5 separate regions of the Homo sapiens genome follow, and all the other regions are reported to be linked to region 1. Evidence: microRNA targets listed by miRTarBase, many of them from high-throughput screens and not tested one by one. Region 1 holds a microRNA gene; each other region holds the end of a gene's coding sequence. Distances are between the middles of the regions.
The links. The annotated mature microRNA hsa-miR-2115-3p reads CAUCAGAAUUCAUGGAGGCUAG and lies in region 1 at 1,783-1,804, opposite strand. An mRNA with a match to its seed (bases 2 to 7 or 8) in the 3' UTR can be bound and repressed. Matches are read on the target gene's strand: a 7mer-m8 pairs with bases 2 to 8, a 7mer-A1 pairs with bases 2 to 7 and ends in A, and an 8mer does both.

Region 2: the mRNA of JKAMP is a reported target of hsa-miR-2115-3p. Seed matches in the 3' UTR shown: 7mer-A1 at 728-734.
Region 3: miRTarBase lists FCF1 as a target of hsa-miR-2115-3p. Seed matches in the 3' UTR shown: 7mer-m8 at 1,665-1,671 and 7mer-m8 at 818-824.
Region 4: miRTarBase lists KYNU as a target of hsa-miR-2115-3p. Seed matches in the 3' UTR shown: 7mer-A1 at 2,533-2,539, 7mer-m8 at 2,371-2,377 and 7mer-A1 at 2,265-2,271.
Region 5: the mRNA of ZNF621 is a reported target of hsa-miR-2115-3p. Seed matches in the 3' UTR shown: 7mer-m8 at 2,095-2,101.

Annotation. Positions count from the first base shown.
Region 1 is chr3:48,314,599-48,319,357 of GRCh38, forward strand. It overlaps MIR2115 (microRNA 2115), which reads right to left and starts at 1,861; the gene lies at 1,762-1,861. The region is part of intron 6 of SPINK8 (serine peptidase inhibitor Kazal type 8 (putative)); the gene reads right to left.
Region 2 is chr14:59,503,789-59,506,788 of GRCh38, forward strand. It overlaps JKAMP (JNK1/MAPK8 associated membrane protein), which reads left to right. Exons shown (of 7, transcript NM_016475.5): 7 at 66-1,622. The coding sequence ends at 284. It overlaps CCDC175 (coiled-coil domain containing 175), which reads right to left. Exons shown (of 20, transcript NM_001164399.2): 20 at 1,279-1,527. The coding sequence ends at 1,451. It also overlaps a transcript of L3HYPDH not described here. Among named protein-coding and RNA genes, the nearest start is that of JKAMP, 21 kb to the left of the region's middle.
Region 3 is chr14:74,734,546-74,737,545 of GRCh38, reverse strand. It overlaps FCF1 (FCF1 rRNA-processing protein), which reads right to left. Exons shown (of 8, transcript NM_015962.5): 8 at 1-2,664. The coding sequence ends at 2,616. Among named protein-coding and RNA genes, the nearest start is that of FCF1, 23 kb to the right of the region's middle.
Region 4 is chr2:143,041,851-143,044,850 of GRCh38, reverse strand. KYNU (kynureninase) reads right to left here. Exons shown (of 14, transcript NM_003937.3): 14 at 1-2,804. The coding sequence ends at 2,679. Among named protein-coding and RNA genes, the nearest start is that of ARHGAP15, 86 kb to the left of the region's middle.
Region 5 is chr3:40,532,528-40,535,527 of GRCh38, forward strand. ZNF621 (zinc finger protein 621) reads left to right here. Exons shown (of 5, transcript NM_198484.5): 5 at 1-3,000. The coding sequence ends at 563. Among named protein-coding and RNA genes, the nearest start is that of ZNF621, 9.1 kb to the left of the region's middle.

The sequences.
Region 1 (4,759 bases):
GTCTGGGTGGTTCTCTGAAAGACCCATTTGCAAAGCTTTTATTTGACCATACTCAAACCTCTCTTGGTGCAAACAGCCTTTTCCCTGGGAAAATTTGTTGAAAACAATCAGAGGCAACTGTTTAACATCATGGCTGCTGCACAGTGTGTAACAGTTGTGAAAAACAATAGGTTAACCAAGAGCTTAAAAGTAAGTTAGGCAATGAGATGTCCATAGGAGGTTTTGAAAAGCTCTAACATGTTACTGGAAATACAGAAGGCCTTGCAGCCAGTGTAAGGCTTTCTGCATGCTCAGAAAAGACCAGAGAAAGTCCCAACATCTCATCTCTAACTAATCTTGTGGGTCTGTGCAAACATCCAGTGACCACTAAAGTGTAGCTTTAAACTGCCTGGTTGAGTAGAGACATGCCTCAGTGCACACACAAAGTTTTTGTTGTCAAAGACTGGGAGATTTATTGGTTCCAGCCATTTAAGGAAATTTTTTTCCAATCATTAGCTGATAATAAGATAATGAGTAGGACCAGATCAATGGCCATACATGACAAAAAATGCATACTTTACAGGATTATTTCAGAAGTCACTAAACTAACACATGGCAACAACAACAAATAACAGCAACAAACCTTGGATAGAGGTGAGAATCTGATTTCCAGAGTTGCCACATTATATTATTCAAAATATTCAATTTTCAACAAAATAGTCATGGCACGTACAAAGGAAAAGAAAGTATGGCTCGCATATAGGATAAAAGTCAGTCAATGGAATCTGTCACTGAGGAAGCCCAGATGTTGGACTTACAAGACATTTTAAATCAGCTATTTTACTTATGTTTAAAGAACTGGGCCGGGTGTGGTGGCTCACTCCTGTAATCCTAACACTTTGGGAGGCTGAGGCAGGTGGATCACTTGTGGTCAGGAGTTCAAGACCAGCCTGACCAACATGGTGAAATCCTGTCTTTACTAAAACTACAAAAATTAGTGGGGCTTGATGGCACAAGCCTGTAATCCCAGCTACTTGGGAGGCTGAGATAGGATAGTTGCTTGAATCCAGGAGGCAGAGGTTGCAGTGAGCCGAGATCATGCCACTGCACTCCAGCCTGGGTAACAGAGTAAGACTCCATCTCAAAAAAAAAAAAAAAAAAAAAAAAGAACTGAAGGAAACTGTATGTAAAGAACAAAGAACTAAAGGCAAGTATGAGAATGATGTCTCACCAAATAGCGAATATCAATAAAGAGACAGAAAAAATTTTCCAAGAACCTGAATAAAAATTCTAAAGTTGAAAATTACAATGACCTAGAATGAAAAATTCCCTGGAGGGGCTCATATAAGATTTGAGCAGACAGAAGAAAGAGTCAAATGTGCTTGAAGATAGACCAATGAATAGTAACCAGTTTGAGGAAAAGAAAGAAAAATAATTATGAAGAAAAAAGAACAAAATGGGTTAAAATGCCTCACATAACCAATAAGATAAAACTCAATTCAAATTGGGAAAAAAATGAATATAGCCACAGAGAAGTGTGGGACACTGTCAAGGGCATCAACATATACATAAAGGGAATCCCTCAAGGAGAGGAGAATACTTGGAAAAATAATGGCTGAAATTCCCCAAGTTTGATGAAAAACTTCATCCAGTAAGTTCAAAAAACTTACAATAGGATGCATTCTAATAGAGCCACACATAGACAAATCATTATAAAATTGCCAAAAGACAAAGGCAAAGAGAGAATCCAAAAAGCAGAAAGGGAGAAGTGAATATCACATGTAAATGATCCTCATACTGCTTCTAGCCTCCATGAATTCTGATGAATTCATGTGATTCCTCCATCAGGAGTCATGGAAGCTGGAAGCAGTGGGATGACAGTCAAAATGCTGAAAGAAAATGAGAGGTGGCCAGGCACGGTGGCTCACACCTATAATCCCAGCACTTTGGGAGGTGGAGGAGGGTGGACTGCTTGAGCTCAGGAGTTCAAGACCAGCCTGGGCAACATGGTGAAAACCTGTCTCTACCAAAAATACAAAAACAAATTTAGCTGAACATGGTGGGGTGTGCCTGTAGTCCTAGCTACTCAGAAGGCTGAGGTGGGAGGATCACTTGAGCCCAGGAGGTCGAGGCTGCAGTGAGCCACAATCATGCCACTGCACTCCAACCTGGGTGACAGAGTGAGACCTGGTCTCATAAATAAATGAATAAATAAAAGAAAAATAAAAAAAGAAAATGACAGTCAACCAAGAATTCTATGCCCACCAAACTATTCTTCAGAAAGAAAGGTGAAATTAAGATATGTCTAGATAAAGAAGAATTGAGGCAATTTGTTGCTAGCAGACCTACAAAATACTAAATAGTCCTTCAGGCTAAAATGAAAGGATCATAAGCAGAAACTTGAATTCATGTGAAGAAATAAAGAGCCAGTTAAAGTAACTATATAGGAAAATAATAGACAGTATAAACATATTTTTGTTTGTAAATCTTTCTCTCCTAAGAGGCAACTGCATAAAACAATTATAAATCTGTGTGAATGGGTGTACAATGAATAAAGCTGTAATTTGTATAACAAAAACAGTTCAAAGAAGGATGGGGAGAATGGAGCTATTTAAGAACAGCATTTTTTGGCTGGGTGTAGTGGCTCATGCCTGTAATCCCAGCACTTTGGGAGGCCGAGGCAGGCTGATCACCTGAGGTTAGGAGTTTGAGACCAGCCTGGCCAACATGGTGAAACCCCATCTCTACAAAAATACAAAAATTAGCTAGGTGTGTTGGTGTGCGCCTGTAATCCCAGCTACTCGGGAAGCTGAGGCAGGAGAATCACTTGAACCCAGGAGGCAGAGGTTGCAGTGAGCCGAGACCACAGTATTGCACTCCAGCATGCGCAACAAAAGTGAAACTACATCTCAAAAAATAAAAAAAAAGGAGCATTTATTTATTTATTTATTTATTTGAGACGGAGTCTCACTTTGTCACCCAGGCTGGAGTGCAGTGGCGCGATCTTGGCTCACTGCAAGCTCCACCTCTCAGGTTCATGCCATTCTCCTGCCTGAGCCTCCTGAGTAGCTGGGACTACAGGCACCCGCCACCACGTCTGGCTAATTTTTTGTATTTTTAGTAGAGATGGGGTTTCACCATGTTAGCCAGGATGGTCTCTATCTCCTGACCTCCTGATCTGCCCGTCTCAAAAGAACTTTGCTCTGTTGCCCAGGCTAGAGTGCAGTGGCACGATCATGGCTCACTGCAGCCTTGAACTCCTGGGCTCAAGCAATCATCCTGACTTCCAAGTAGCTAGGACTACAGGCAGGTGCCACCATGCCTGGCTAATTTTTTAATTTTTTTTTGTAGAGTCAGGGTCTCGCTATGTTGCTCATGTCTCAAATCCCTAGGCTCAAGCAATCCTTCTGCCTCAGCTTCCCAAAGTGTTGGGATTACAGGCTTGAGCCACCCCTCCAGGCAAAAATATTTTTTAAAATTTTTGTAATTAAGTTGGTATTAATCCAAATTAGATTGGTATAAATTAGAATTTAACTTGTAATATCCAGTGCAACTGCTAAGAGAATAATTTCTTTTTTTTTGAGACGGAGTCTTGCTTTATCTCCCAGGCTGGAGTGCAGTGATGCAATCTCAGCTCACTGCAACCTCCGCCTCCTGGGTTCGAGGGATTCTTCTGCCTCATCCTCCTGAGTAGCTGGGATTACAGGCATGCACCACCACACCCGGCTAATTTTTGTATTTTTAGTAGAGACGGGATTTCATCATATTGGCCAGGCTGGTCTCGAACTCCTGACCTCAGGTGATCCGCCCACCTCGGCCTCCCAAAGTGCTGGGATTACAGGCGTGAGCCACTGCGCCCAGCTAGAATAATTTCTAAGATACACTGAAAGGGAGCTCTTTAGAGGCCATCTCTCAGATGTCTCCTGGTTCCAGCATCGTTTGACTCTGTCATGCTGCGCATTCCCCAGATGATGCTTTCTGATTGTCAGGTGTCAGCGTCTGTGCCAGTGATTGAGGCTGACACCAAAGTTGTTTACCTTACAACTCTCGTATGGGTTCTAGTGTAAGCTTTAGTGTTTATTCAGCCAAGAATACAAGAAAGTCCGATCCTGCCCAGCCAAATATCTCTCATCCTGATCAAGAAGATTCTTATTCCTTCTCTGGAGGAGAAGCTAAGAAGAGGAAGGGGAGAGAGACTTAATTCTGATCTACTCTTGTGTTTTTGCTTTTCTCTCTTAAGATAGCACTCAACTTGTAAGCCTTAGTTAGACAAGGGTGTGGCTTTTCTCCTTAAAGGAGAAGGCAGATGTCAGAGAATCCTCCTAACTGTATACGGAGTTTCCTTCATACAAACCCCTGCTCCTCACTATTCCCCTTGGGCTAAACAATTGGGCGTTTCACTTGTGTGTTACTCAAAGCTTCTAACATGTGATGGGTGCAGAGACTAAACCACATACTAAGTTGAAAGCAAAAGAAAGTTGTTTTGGAAAATAATATCCATTTTAGGACCAATAAACTATTAGCTGGGAAGATTCTTCACCCAGCTTCCTCTTCCTCTTCTTTTTGTTCTTTGTTTCTGTTCTTTGGCCTGAGGGGGCATGAGGATGACCTTCATGTAGGGTCACATGATCTACATGCTATGGCTGCTTGTTTCTGAGTGCCTCCACTTGAGGCTTGTCCAGGTCACACACAGTGCCCTCACCTTAGTGGATTTCTGTTTCTGCATTGTCTGAATAGGATCACATGTACCTTTTGAGGTCACAGAAAGGAATGGAAGAAA
Region 2 (3,000 bases), not on the chromosome of region 1:
ATTACCCAGCTGACTTAGCCTGATAATCTGTATTTCTCTTTTCTTTCTTTTACAAAATTATATAGAACTGCTATGATCTTCTGGTCAGAAAGAAAAGACTTATTGTTCTCTTCAGCCACTGGTTACTTCATGCCTATGGAATAATCTCCATTTCCAGAGTGGATAAACTTGAGCAAGATTTGCCCCTTTTGGCTTTGGTACCTACACCAGCCCTTTTTTACTTGTTCACTGCAAAATTTACCGAACCTTCAAGGATACTCTCAGAAGGAGCCAATGGACACTGAGTGTAGACATGTGAAATGCCAAAAACCTGAGAAGTGCTCCTAATAAAAAAGTAAATCAATCTTAACAGTGTATGAGAACTATTCTATCATATATGGGAACAAGATTGTCAGTATATCTTAATGTTTGGGTTTGTCTTTGTTTTGTTTATGGTTAGACTTACAGACTTGGAAAATGCAAAACTCTGTAATACTCTGTTACACAGGGTAATATTATCTGCTACACTGGAAGGCCGCTAGGAAGCCCTTGCTTCTCTCAACAGTTCAGCTGTTCTTTAGGGCAAAATCATGTTTCTGTGTACCTAGCAATGTGTTCCCATTTTATTAAGAAAAGCTTTAACACGTGTAATCTGCAGTCCTTAACAGTGGCGTAATTGTACTTACCTGTTGTGTTTCAGTTTGTTTTTCACCTATAATGAATTGTAAAAACAAACATACTTGTGGGGTCTGATAGCAAACATAGAAATGATGTATATTGTTTTTTGTTATCTATTTATTTTCATCAATACAGTATTTTGATGTATTGCAAAAATAGATAATAATTTATATAACAGGTTTTCTGTTTATAGATTGGTTCAAGATTTGTTTGGATTATTGTTCCTGTAAAGAAAACAATAATAAAAAGCTTACCTACATAAAATTTCAATGTTTTGACACTTAATTGTTGTTTGGCACAATAGTATGGAAGTAATTCAAACTGGTAAATAGTTTCCTCTCATATCTCGGGTATATATACATACCATATTTTATTGATCCAGAGATACTTATTTCACTTTGTGACATCTCTGAATTAGGATGCATCTTACAACTGATGGCTTATTAGATTTAATGAAATACAGAAGATACACAGAATAAAAAGGGTTTTCCTGTGGTTGGTTTGTGGTTTGTGATAGGTGTTCTGTGATGTTTATGCTTTGAAGGCCTTAAGACTCATGGTTGCAACCATGGAAGCAAAATGAAATTTTTAGCTCTTAACCTAACAACCTGACCATGTTTATCCATTTTTATTGTTTAGAAGTTTATTTACTGATACTTGGTGGAGGTTGTGTGAATTAGTTAAATTTTAAATGTTTAAGACTTCTATTAACAGCTGCAAAATATGAAAGTAAGTGCACTCACTTTTCCTGTAGTAGTCTGTCTTTTGAATTCACAGCAGTTGTATCCTTGAGTTACTTTGTTAATGTATTTTTCTCAGTACATTTAACCACTGGGAAATGAACCCTTGTACGAATGTGTTTCTTCTTCTCTGTAGGAATAAAAAATAAATATAAAAATTTTATTTGTATTGCACACATTTGGGGGGTTATTAGTGTTCATTAAAATTCTGAGTTGCCCAAAGAATCCTCAATTGAGTAATTGTATAATCGGGGTAGAGTAGGGAGGGGTGTCATGTGTCTGATTACTAGGACTATATCTTCTGGTCCACTTGGGGCCATTTTTACAATCATTTTTTTCATATGTCCTGTTCTAGCAGAAAAGTATATATGCAAAAGAAGAAATTACAATTACAAGGCCTCACGGGCAAATAATTTCCACAATACTTAATATGTATCTGCATTTTTAATTTGCTTTGGTAAAAATAAGACTAGAACAACTTATAGCCACTGTAGTTGCTAATTTTACTAAATAATTTGTTAAAACGTGGTCATAAGAAATTTAAAAATCAACCCTTGTCTTTGTTAAGTTTTGACTTAGGCCCTTGTAGCACATCACAATCCTTATCACTACAGTGTATGGTACTTTTGCTAACCAGTCCTGAAGAGGTAATTTAAAAGTCAAAATACAGGTTGAATATCTCATATTCAAAAATGCTTGAGACCAGAAGTGTTTCGAATTTCGGGTATTTTCAGATTTTGGAATATTTGCATTATACTTACAGTTCAGTATCCGTAATCCTAAAATCTGAAATCTTAAATTCTCAAAGAGGATTTTCTTTGAGCGTCATATTGGTGCTGAAAAAGCTTTGAGTTTTGGAGCACTTTGGATTTTTGGATTTTCAGACCAGGGATACTAAATCTGTGTTTTCTTGATTAATTTGGGTCAGTTAGTTGATAAATTTAATAACTACCTTGTTATATATTTGTCTAAAACTATTAGTTTGCGAGACTATTGCACATTGAAGCCATCTGGAGAGATTTAAAAAAATAATGCCTGGGCCCCACACCCAGAGATTCATGTTGAATTGGTCTGTGTTTGAGCACAGGGATTTTTTTTTTTTTTTCTTTTTTTTTTTTTGAGACAGTGTCTCGCTCTGTCACCCAGGCTGAAAGTGCAGTGATGCGATCTCGGCTCACTGCAACCTCCACCTCCTGGGTTCAAGTGATTCTCATGCCTCAGCCTCCCAAGCAGCTGGGATTATAGGTGCCCGCCATGACACCCAGCTAATTTTTGTATTTGTAGTAGAAATGGGGTTTCACCCTGTTGGTCAGGCTGGTCTTGCACTCCTGACCTCAAGTGATCTGCTCACCTCAGCCTCCCAAAGTACTGGGATTAGAGGCATGGGCCACCACACCCAGCTGAGCACAGGGGTTTTTTAAAATCTCCAGGTGATTCTAATGTTTGAGAACCACTGATCTAAACTCCTCCTATTTCAGATCTTAATTTTTCCAAGAGACAAGTACTAGGCAAATGATTTTCTTTCTTCTCACTGAAATTTTGATTCTGCTTTAATTATAAGGAGGTGTTTTTCTAGACTTAATCAAAATGTAGATGATTGTAT
Region 3 (3,000 bases), not on the chromosome of region 1:
CAACAGATGGTTATATGGTTTGTCCAACTCATACAGATATTAACTGGTGGAATTAGTATTCTAACACTAACAGAATGACTCCAGACTATTTGGCCTGTTAATGAAATTTCCTTTTCCCACAGAAACGAAATACCACCTTAATAATATACCAAATCCCCACAAATACATAGGTTTTTTGTTTGTTTGTTTTTGAGACAGAGTTTCACTCTGTCGCCCAGGCTGGAGTGCAGTGGCGTGATCTCGGCTCGTTGCAACCTCTGCCTCCCGGGTTCAAGCGATTCTCCTGCCTCAGCCTCCCAAGTAGCTGGGACTACAGGCTTGCACCACCACGCCCAGTTAATTTTGGAATTTTTAGTAGAGGTGGGGTTTCACCATGTTGGCCAGGCTGGTTTCAAACTCCTGACCTCAAGTGATCTGCCCACCTCAGTCTCCCAAAGTGCTGGGATTATACATAGGTTAATGGATTTTCTATGGTGTACTGTTTCCTATGCTTCATCTTCCATTCCTAATTTACTGGGGAGGCACCTATTCATTTTTAAGATTAGCTCAAACCACATGACCACTGGCCTTTCCTCCCTCTCCATCCCAACCAGTAGAAAAAAATCATTCCACCTTTATGTGCCCATGACATGCCTCTGAAACTTTTACCCTAGCACTGCTATTTTACGGCATTTATTCATTTACATGTTTTTCTTTCCCACCATAATGAGTGTCTTGAGGGCAGGACCATCTCTTATTAAGCACCTAGTATACATTTAATAAATGTTTATTGAGTAAGTCAGTATAAAACAATGACCGCCAAATTATGTGAGCAATCATCAGAATATCTGATTTCTAAAAAGACGCAACAAAAATTTTTTATTGTAAATTGACAATTTATAATTGTATAAATGTATGGGTTACAAAGTGATATCATAAATTGTGGATACAATATGGAATAGTTAAATCAAGCTAGTTAACATATGCAATACTTCAAATACATTTCTGTGATGAGAACATCAATTTTGAAATGTATAATACCCCATTATTAAGTATAGGCACCACACTGTACAACAGAACTCAAAAAAAGCATAAAACATATTCTTCCTGTCTGAGATTTTATACCCTTTGACCATCATTAATTTTTTTTTTTTTTTGAGACAGTCTCACTCTGTCACCCAGGCTGGAATGCAGTGGCGCAATCTCAGCTCACTGCAACCTCCACCTCCTGGGTTCAAGAGGTTCTCCTGCCTCAGCCTCCCCAGTGGCTGGGATTACAGGCACGTGACACCATACCCAGCTAATTTTTTTTGTATTTTTAGTAGAGGTGGGGTTTTGCCATGTTGTCCAGGCTCATCTCCAACTCCTGACCTCAGGTGATCCACCCACCTTGGCCTCCCAAAGTGCTGGGATTACAGGAATGAGCCACCATGCCTGGCCTAGTTTTTATGAGACAAAATATCAATTTCAAAACAGCATCAGTGGCAAAACAGCATCAGTGGCTGGACGTGGTGGCACGCACCTATAGTCCCAGCTACTCCGCAGGCTGAGGCAGGAGAATCGCTTGAACCTGGGAGGCGGAGGTTGCAATGAGCCGAGATTGCGCCACTGCACTCCAGCCTGGTGACAGAGCGAGACTCCGTCTCAAAACAAACAAATAAACAAACAAACAACAAAAAAGCAGCATCAGAAAGTGAGCAGGCCAGGCACAGTGGCTCATGTCTGTAATTCCAGCACTTTGGGAGGCCGAGGCATACTTTTCTGTATTAAAAATACAAAAGTATTTGTCTCTACTAAAAATATCCACCCCCCCCGCCCAAAAAAGAAAAATTAGTTGAGCATGGTGGTGTGTACCTGTAATCCCAGCTACTCGGGAGGCTGAGGCAGGAGAATCACTTGAAGGATGGGAGGCAGGGGTTGCAGTGAGCCCAGATCACGCCACTGCACTCCAGCCTGGTGACAGAGCAAAACTTCATCTCAAGAAAAAAAAAAAAAAGAGTGAGCATATTGAACTACCCTCAGCTCATAGTAAGGCAAATAGGTCAACAGAATAATAATTCATGCTATTGCATTGGAAAAGCAATTAAAAGAAATTTAAAAATGTGTAAGCAGAAATTCAGTTGCATGTAAGAAAATCCAATTCCCCGTGAGAAAGAGAAAGAGCTGGAGTCCTTTAAAAATTAACTGCCTGTTTTTCTGTGGCTAGTGAGCCTTATCTCTCCTCCTTTCCCAGGCATTGTAAATACCCTGTTTCTCTAGCTGTGCAGCTGCAAGGTAACTAGACAGATAAACTCAAGTCGTAAAACATGATTTTCCTTGAAAAGTAAGAAATGATGTAATGCATGTCTCAGTTAATTGAATAACTGTCTTTCTTGCTTCTGTAATATGCTTCCCCCTGCACAGATTCCCCCCAACCCCCGCGGCCCCACAAAATGCTTAAAAGGTAACTTAACTCTGTTCAGGGTTCAGTCCTTTGGATGTTAATCTGACTGGGCTGGTGCACCTAAATAATAAATATCTCCCTGAACTCCATCAGTCTCTCTGATTCCTTAAAAATCCCGCTACATTTTGTGTAATGAACTGGCAACAAGAGAAAGTTGGTCGAAGAAAGGCAGAGGAACTGTGTCTTGTAAGAATTAGAATCGAGGGGCTCCATAATCATCTGGCATCCGTTCAATGTTGTATCTGATCAGGACAAAAAATCAACACCGGTAAGAAAGATGGGAAGAGAACCCATCTAAAAACCCATCCTTTATAGACTGCAATACTCTCACCCCCACTGTGAATCCTTTTTGTCAGTGGAAACAATTTAGGGGAACATCATAATGAATGATTTACAGCAAAATGCTGACTATAATACAATATGATTGTTTTTTCAAAGTCACAAAGTCAGCAAGAGGGGAACTGAGGAGCTGAGATCAGTAAGTCCAACTTCTTAGTCCACAGACTTCCCACCACATTGTGCTCTCCTCAAGCTGAAAAGCTGGAAAATAAGTCTGAGTACTGACAAAAAATAGCCAA
Region 4 (3,000 bases), not on the chromosome of region 1:
TGACAAATGGAACCTGATTAAACTAAAGAGCTTCTACACAGCAAAAGAAACTATCATCAGAGTGATCGGGCAACCTACAGAACGGGAGAAAATTTTTGCAATCTATCCATCTGACAAAGGGAAAATATCCAGAATCTACAAGGGACTTAAATAAATTTACAAGAAAAACACAACCCCATCAAAAAGTGGGTGAAGGATACGAACAGACACTTCTCAAAAGAAGACATTTATGCGGCCAACAAATATATGAAAAAAAACTCATCATCACTGGTCATTAGAGAAATGCAAATCAAAACCACAATGAAATACCATCTCACGCCAGTTAGAATGCTAATCATTAAAAAGTCAAGAAACAACAGATGCTGAGAGGATGTGGAGAAATAGGAATGCTTTTACACTGTTGGTGGGAGTATAAATTAGTTCAACCATTGTGGAAGACAGTGTGGCAATTCCTCGAGGATCTAGAACCAGAAATACCATTTAACCCAGCAATCCCATTACTGGGTATACCCTAAGGATTATAAATCATTCTACTATAAAGACACATGCACACATATGTTCATTGCAGCACTATTCACAATAGCGAAGACTTGGAACCAACTCAAATGGCCATCAATGATAGACTGGATAAAGAAAATGTGGCACATATATACCATGGAATACTATGCAGCCATAAAAAAGAATGAGTTCATGTCCTTTGCAGGGACATGGATGAAGCTGGAAACCATCATTCTCAGCAAACTAACAGAGGAACAGAAAATCAAACACTGCATGTTCTTACCCATAAGTGAGAGTTGAACAATGAGAACATATGAACACAGGGAGGGGAACATCACACACCAGGTCCTTTTGGGTAGTTGGGGATAAGAGGAGGGTGAGCATTAGGAGAAATACCTGATGTAGATGACGGGTTGATGGGTGCAGCAATCCACCACGGCACATGTATACCTATGTAACAAACCTGCATGTTCTGCACGTGTATCCAAGAACTTAAAGTATAAATATATATATATTTATACTTTATATATATTATACTTTATATATATTTATATAAATATATTAAAATATAAATATATAAATATATAAATATAAATATATATAAAGTATATATATTTATATATATTTTTATATATGTATATGAATCCACTTATGCATGAGTTTTAAGGTTTTGAGAACTCTTCCATCTATGAGGATTAGTTACAGTAGGAAGATTTGCTAAAGCAGTATGTAGCCACTCAATTAAGGGAGATAACATGAGTAATGTAGCACAATACATGGTACATGGTAAGTACATGATAAATATCAGTAGTTACTGGTATTGGTAGGTGTTGATGTTGGAGTTCCACATATTATTGTTTACGTCTACCATCCGAAGTGTTTATCTAAGTTTGTTTATTTCATTCAAACTTGTTTAATTGGAGGCAATAATTATGTCACTCTTTTTGTTGACTATGTATACAAATCTACACTATTTTGTCAACTTATAAATAATGATTGTGGCATCAACAATTGAAAACTAGGTAAGTCCAACAGGGCTAAGTGTAACTTTAGGTTTTTCACAGTGGGTAAGAAAGGTCCATAGATTTGAGATAAAGATGTCAAGAGATGGAGCACATATTTCTTATATCTCTAATCCCCAAAAAGATCTTGGGGTTATTTATTTACTATGGAAACATAGTAATATAATATCTAAGCTCTTATATTAGGGGAAGTTCTCATTTAAAAAGTAAGAGATTATGATAACATTAAAGAAAGAAACATTCTTAAAAAGTGTGAATTAGGGCCCATGAGTGGGTAAGGAAATCAATATAATGAGTTTCCAACATTTCTTATGAGATAAAATAGAATAGTACCTATTAGAGCACAGGCAAATAATTGTAAAAACTTTTATTTTTGCTATTTAGACTATTTTATCAAATAGAAGATGGTAACTGTTTATTTGAGATGCATGCTAATTTCATAGATGGTAACGAGAAAGATGGCCAATGGTGACTGTAAGAAACTATTGATCGAAAATTGAAAGATGGGTCCTCTTTCAAAGATGTTAAAATATGATAAAATATCTTAGAATCAATAATATTTCTCATATATTCACATAAATACTGGTTTCTGATATTACAGATCAGCAGGAGCAATGTGGATTGTACCCAAAAAAATTTGAAAGCCACTATCATATATATATGATATATATATATATATATACACACACACACACACACATATATATATATATATATATATATATATATATATATATATATATATATCAGACTACAATGCTTCAAAGAAACTCCTTGGTAAATTGAAGCTAAAGTAATATTTCTAAATTTGACACAATAATTGCACATACATTATGAAGTTGTCAGTTAAATCAGAAATTAAACCAACATAAAACATTTCAATGACCATGAAATGTGACAGCTTATAGAGACTGTATAGATAATACTTGAACCAACACAGTTTTGGTCCCCCAAACACAAAGCACCTAGGCAGCCCTGTGGACTCCTTAGTGCCACAGACTCTGAAAAATTATATCAGATTTTCTGTAAGGTATATTATTTATTGTTAGTTACATGTGGTCAATGGTGACATACTTTCAATAATTAAAAATCGAATAATACTGAAATAACCACAGCAGCTTTCAGTATAATTTGCTTAAGTTGTTCTAGAAAACACTGCTAATTTTTTGTTTCTGCAGAGTCAAGTATAGAAGTGAGCAGATTGGTAAATTTATAAACATCATGGAAAGAATTATAGAGAGGAACTGGAGCCACTCGAATGCCATTTGGATTCCGCTTGTCACACTGTGGGGAAAAAATAAAGCCACAATAATGTTAGCATTATTCACACGTTGAAAATCTACATTCCAGATAAACTTATGTAAAGCACTTTCATAATGATTTCCCTAAAAATTAATATATATGCAAAATTTTTTTACTTTAAAACATGGTGTTTTTCTGTTTTATGAAACTTTTCTCTTGATAATAATTTAAGAAATAA
Region 5 (3,000 bases), 7.8 Mb from region 1:
ATCAGAGATTACACACGGGAGAGAAACTCTATAAATGTAAGGAATGTTGGAAAGCTTTCGGTTGTAGGTCACTTTTTATTGTCCATCAGAGAATTCATACTGGGGAGAAACCTTATCAATGTAAGGAGTGTGGCAAAGCCTTCACCCAGAAAATAGCCTCCATTCAGCATCAGAGAGTTCACACTGGGGAGAAGCCTTATGAATGTAAGGTGTGTGGGAAAGCCTTCAAATGGTATGGAAGTTTTGTTCAGCATCAGAAATTGCACCCTGTGGAGAAGAAGCCAGTCAAGGTCCTTGGGCCATCCCTGGTCAGTCCCCAGTGCTCCTCTCCAGCCATACCTCCTGTTCTTCTCCAGGGATCCTGTTCTGCTTCAGCCGTAGCTGTGCCTTCACTGACCTTTCCACATGCTGTGCTCATTCCTACCTCTGGGAATTTTTTCATGCTGCTGCCTACATCTGGAATACCTTCTTCATCTGCCCAAATAGTGCGTGTCTTCCAGGGTCTTACTCCCACTGTGAAACCTTCCCCAGTTATTCTCACCCCTTCTTCTCACTCCTCATGAGCTTTATCTTGGCAGTCTTACGGCTCTTATGCCTAGCAAATCTCCAGCCTAATTTTATATATTTTTTTGAGAAAGGGTCTTGCTCTGTCACCCAGGCTAGAGTGCGGTGGTGTGATCTTGGCTCACTGCAACCTCCCCCTCCTGGGTTCAAGCGATTCTCCTCCTTCAGACTCTCGAATAGCTGGGATTACAGGCACGCCTCACCACGCCCAGCTAATTTCTGTATTTTTAGAAGAGATGGGGTTTCGCCATCTTGGCCAGGCTGGTCTCAAACACCTGACCTCAAGTGATCCGCCTGCCTTGGCCCCCCAAAGTGCTGGGATTACAGGAGTGAGCCACTGTGCCCAGCCTCCAACCTAATTTGAGTTTCATTTGTATTTTTTTCATCACCTTACATGTGTTAACAGCTGTTTCAACATAAACTCCATTATAATCTATATACATTTAAAGACCGTGTTTACATAATCTCTTCTGGGTAGAAAATGGAAATACTTAACCTTTGCATTGGTCCCTTTCAGGCTTGAACAACAGTGGCTGTATCTGCATCGTGGGGTTGCTGGTGGTAGAACACTTTGGTGTTAGGAAAGTTTGGAAAAGAGGATATCCCTGTATTAGGCCATTATGATTAGAGATAAGCAGCCTGGGAGAAACATACAAGACCTGTGGCTACTGGTAGAGAATTGGAATAAGCTTCCAACAATGGACTGTAGAGATTAATGGAGATTGTTTAGTGGGCCCATGGCTAGGTGGGGTATTAATACAGTTGAAGTTATGTTGCCCTTGGCACAGATCTTTGAGAATCTCATACATCTGTGAAAAAGATAATGTGAAATAAACAGTAAAAAAAAAAAGTATGTTGATGGCAGTGAGAGTAATCATGTCTTTAAACGTGAAGTTTTTTTTTCTTTAGTTTTGCTCTTGATAGCTAGATGTTTCTTTTAACTTTTATTTCGTAAGTAAATATACACAAAGGCATTCATCTTTGTTGAATCTGTTGTGCAGATTTTTCTTGATGAGCATTCTGTTTTTTTTTCTTTGTGAGCACTGGCTTCTATATTTTATTTCATATTTATGAATTATAAATATGAATTTAATTACTAAAGAAATAAAAATAATGGTGTAAAGCCAACTCGAGGGGAATCTGAATAAGCTTCCAAAATTTTTTTTTTTAAGAAATAAAGGGAGCTGTGTAGTGGGTCAGTGGCTAGGTAGGTTAGTGAAGTGGAATTTGGGGTTGCTCTTGGAAGTGGCCTTGATGAGGATCCTTTACAACTATTCAGAGGACTGTGTGAAGTAGTTACTGGAAAAAGAACTTGAATTATGCATTTATTGGCATTAATGTAAACAGTAAGTCCTAAGCTTTGATGGAAGGGTCCATACATTTTTTTTTTTTTTTTGCTGATGTTGCTATCTAGATGTTTCTCTATAGCAATTAATAGCAAAACCTTTACATTCTTGGTTTTTAAACTTTACCATGTGTCTGAATTACATAGTGTGCTTGTAAAAAGAAGAGTTTTCTCTCTTGCACAAATTCTGATTTTGGCTATCTGTGGTGATGGCCAGATCTTTAGCATGGACCATACTTTGAGAGATATGCTTCAAACAGAAAATGCCCACCCCTCCTCCTTTACCCAGCATAAACTCTATGGTTAATTCTTAAAATAATGCCTTACAGTCTCCATTAACTCCCTTGCCCTTCTCTTGCTTTGTCATGCTCGCTTGGCAAAACCTCATCTCTGACTAAATGCAGTTCTTTGCCTTCTCTGTTCCTGCACCAAAAATGATCAGGAGAAAGCATATTACCAGGCTGAACTGTCACTTTAAATTCATGACCAGTAACTTCATGGAGGCCCTTAACGTTTCCTGATGGTCATACTACAATTTTTGGAGTCCACTTAACTCCCCTGCTTTCCTAGGCCACTACTTTATACTTTCTCTCTTCTGTAACTTCCAAAGCATCCCTCTCAGTTCTCATGCTCAGCTGATGGTTATGTTTCTGCCTTCGGCGAGAGAACAGCAAGCTCCAGAAAGTGGCTGCGCCTTCAGCCCCGTGCTAGAATGAGAACATATGGAGCCAACTTGAGTTCGGAAGGGCTGTGGCCACCTCGTTTCGCCCATCTACTTTTCACCTTGCCGTATCTGATTCTTCACCACCGTATTCTCAGTCACTTCCACTAAACAGTGCCAGTGTTTTAAGGTTCTGTCACACTCAGTAACCCACTTCTGGTTCCTCATTCCGTGTCAGTGATCAGCAGTAGACTGAAGAATCTACCTTAGATTTGCTCCATACTATTAATTAGCTTACAAAATGTCTAAGAGGAGCTAAGCTGGGATGCCACATAGGCAGAAGCCAGGAAAAATGACCAACCACAGAACCAAGTGGTTCCAGTGGAAACTCAGCAGCTGCTGGTGCCTGCTACTGGACTGCCACCCCCCA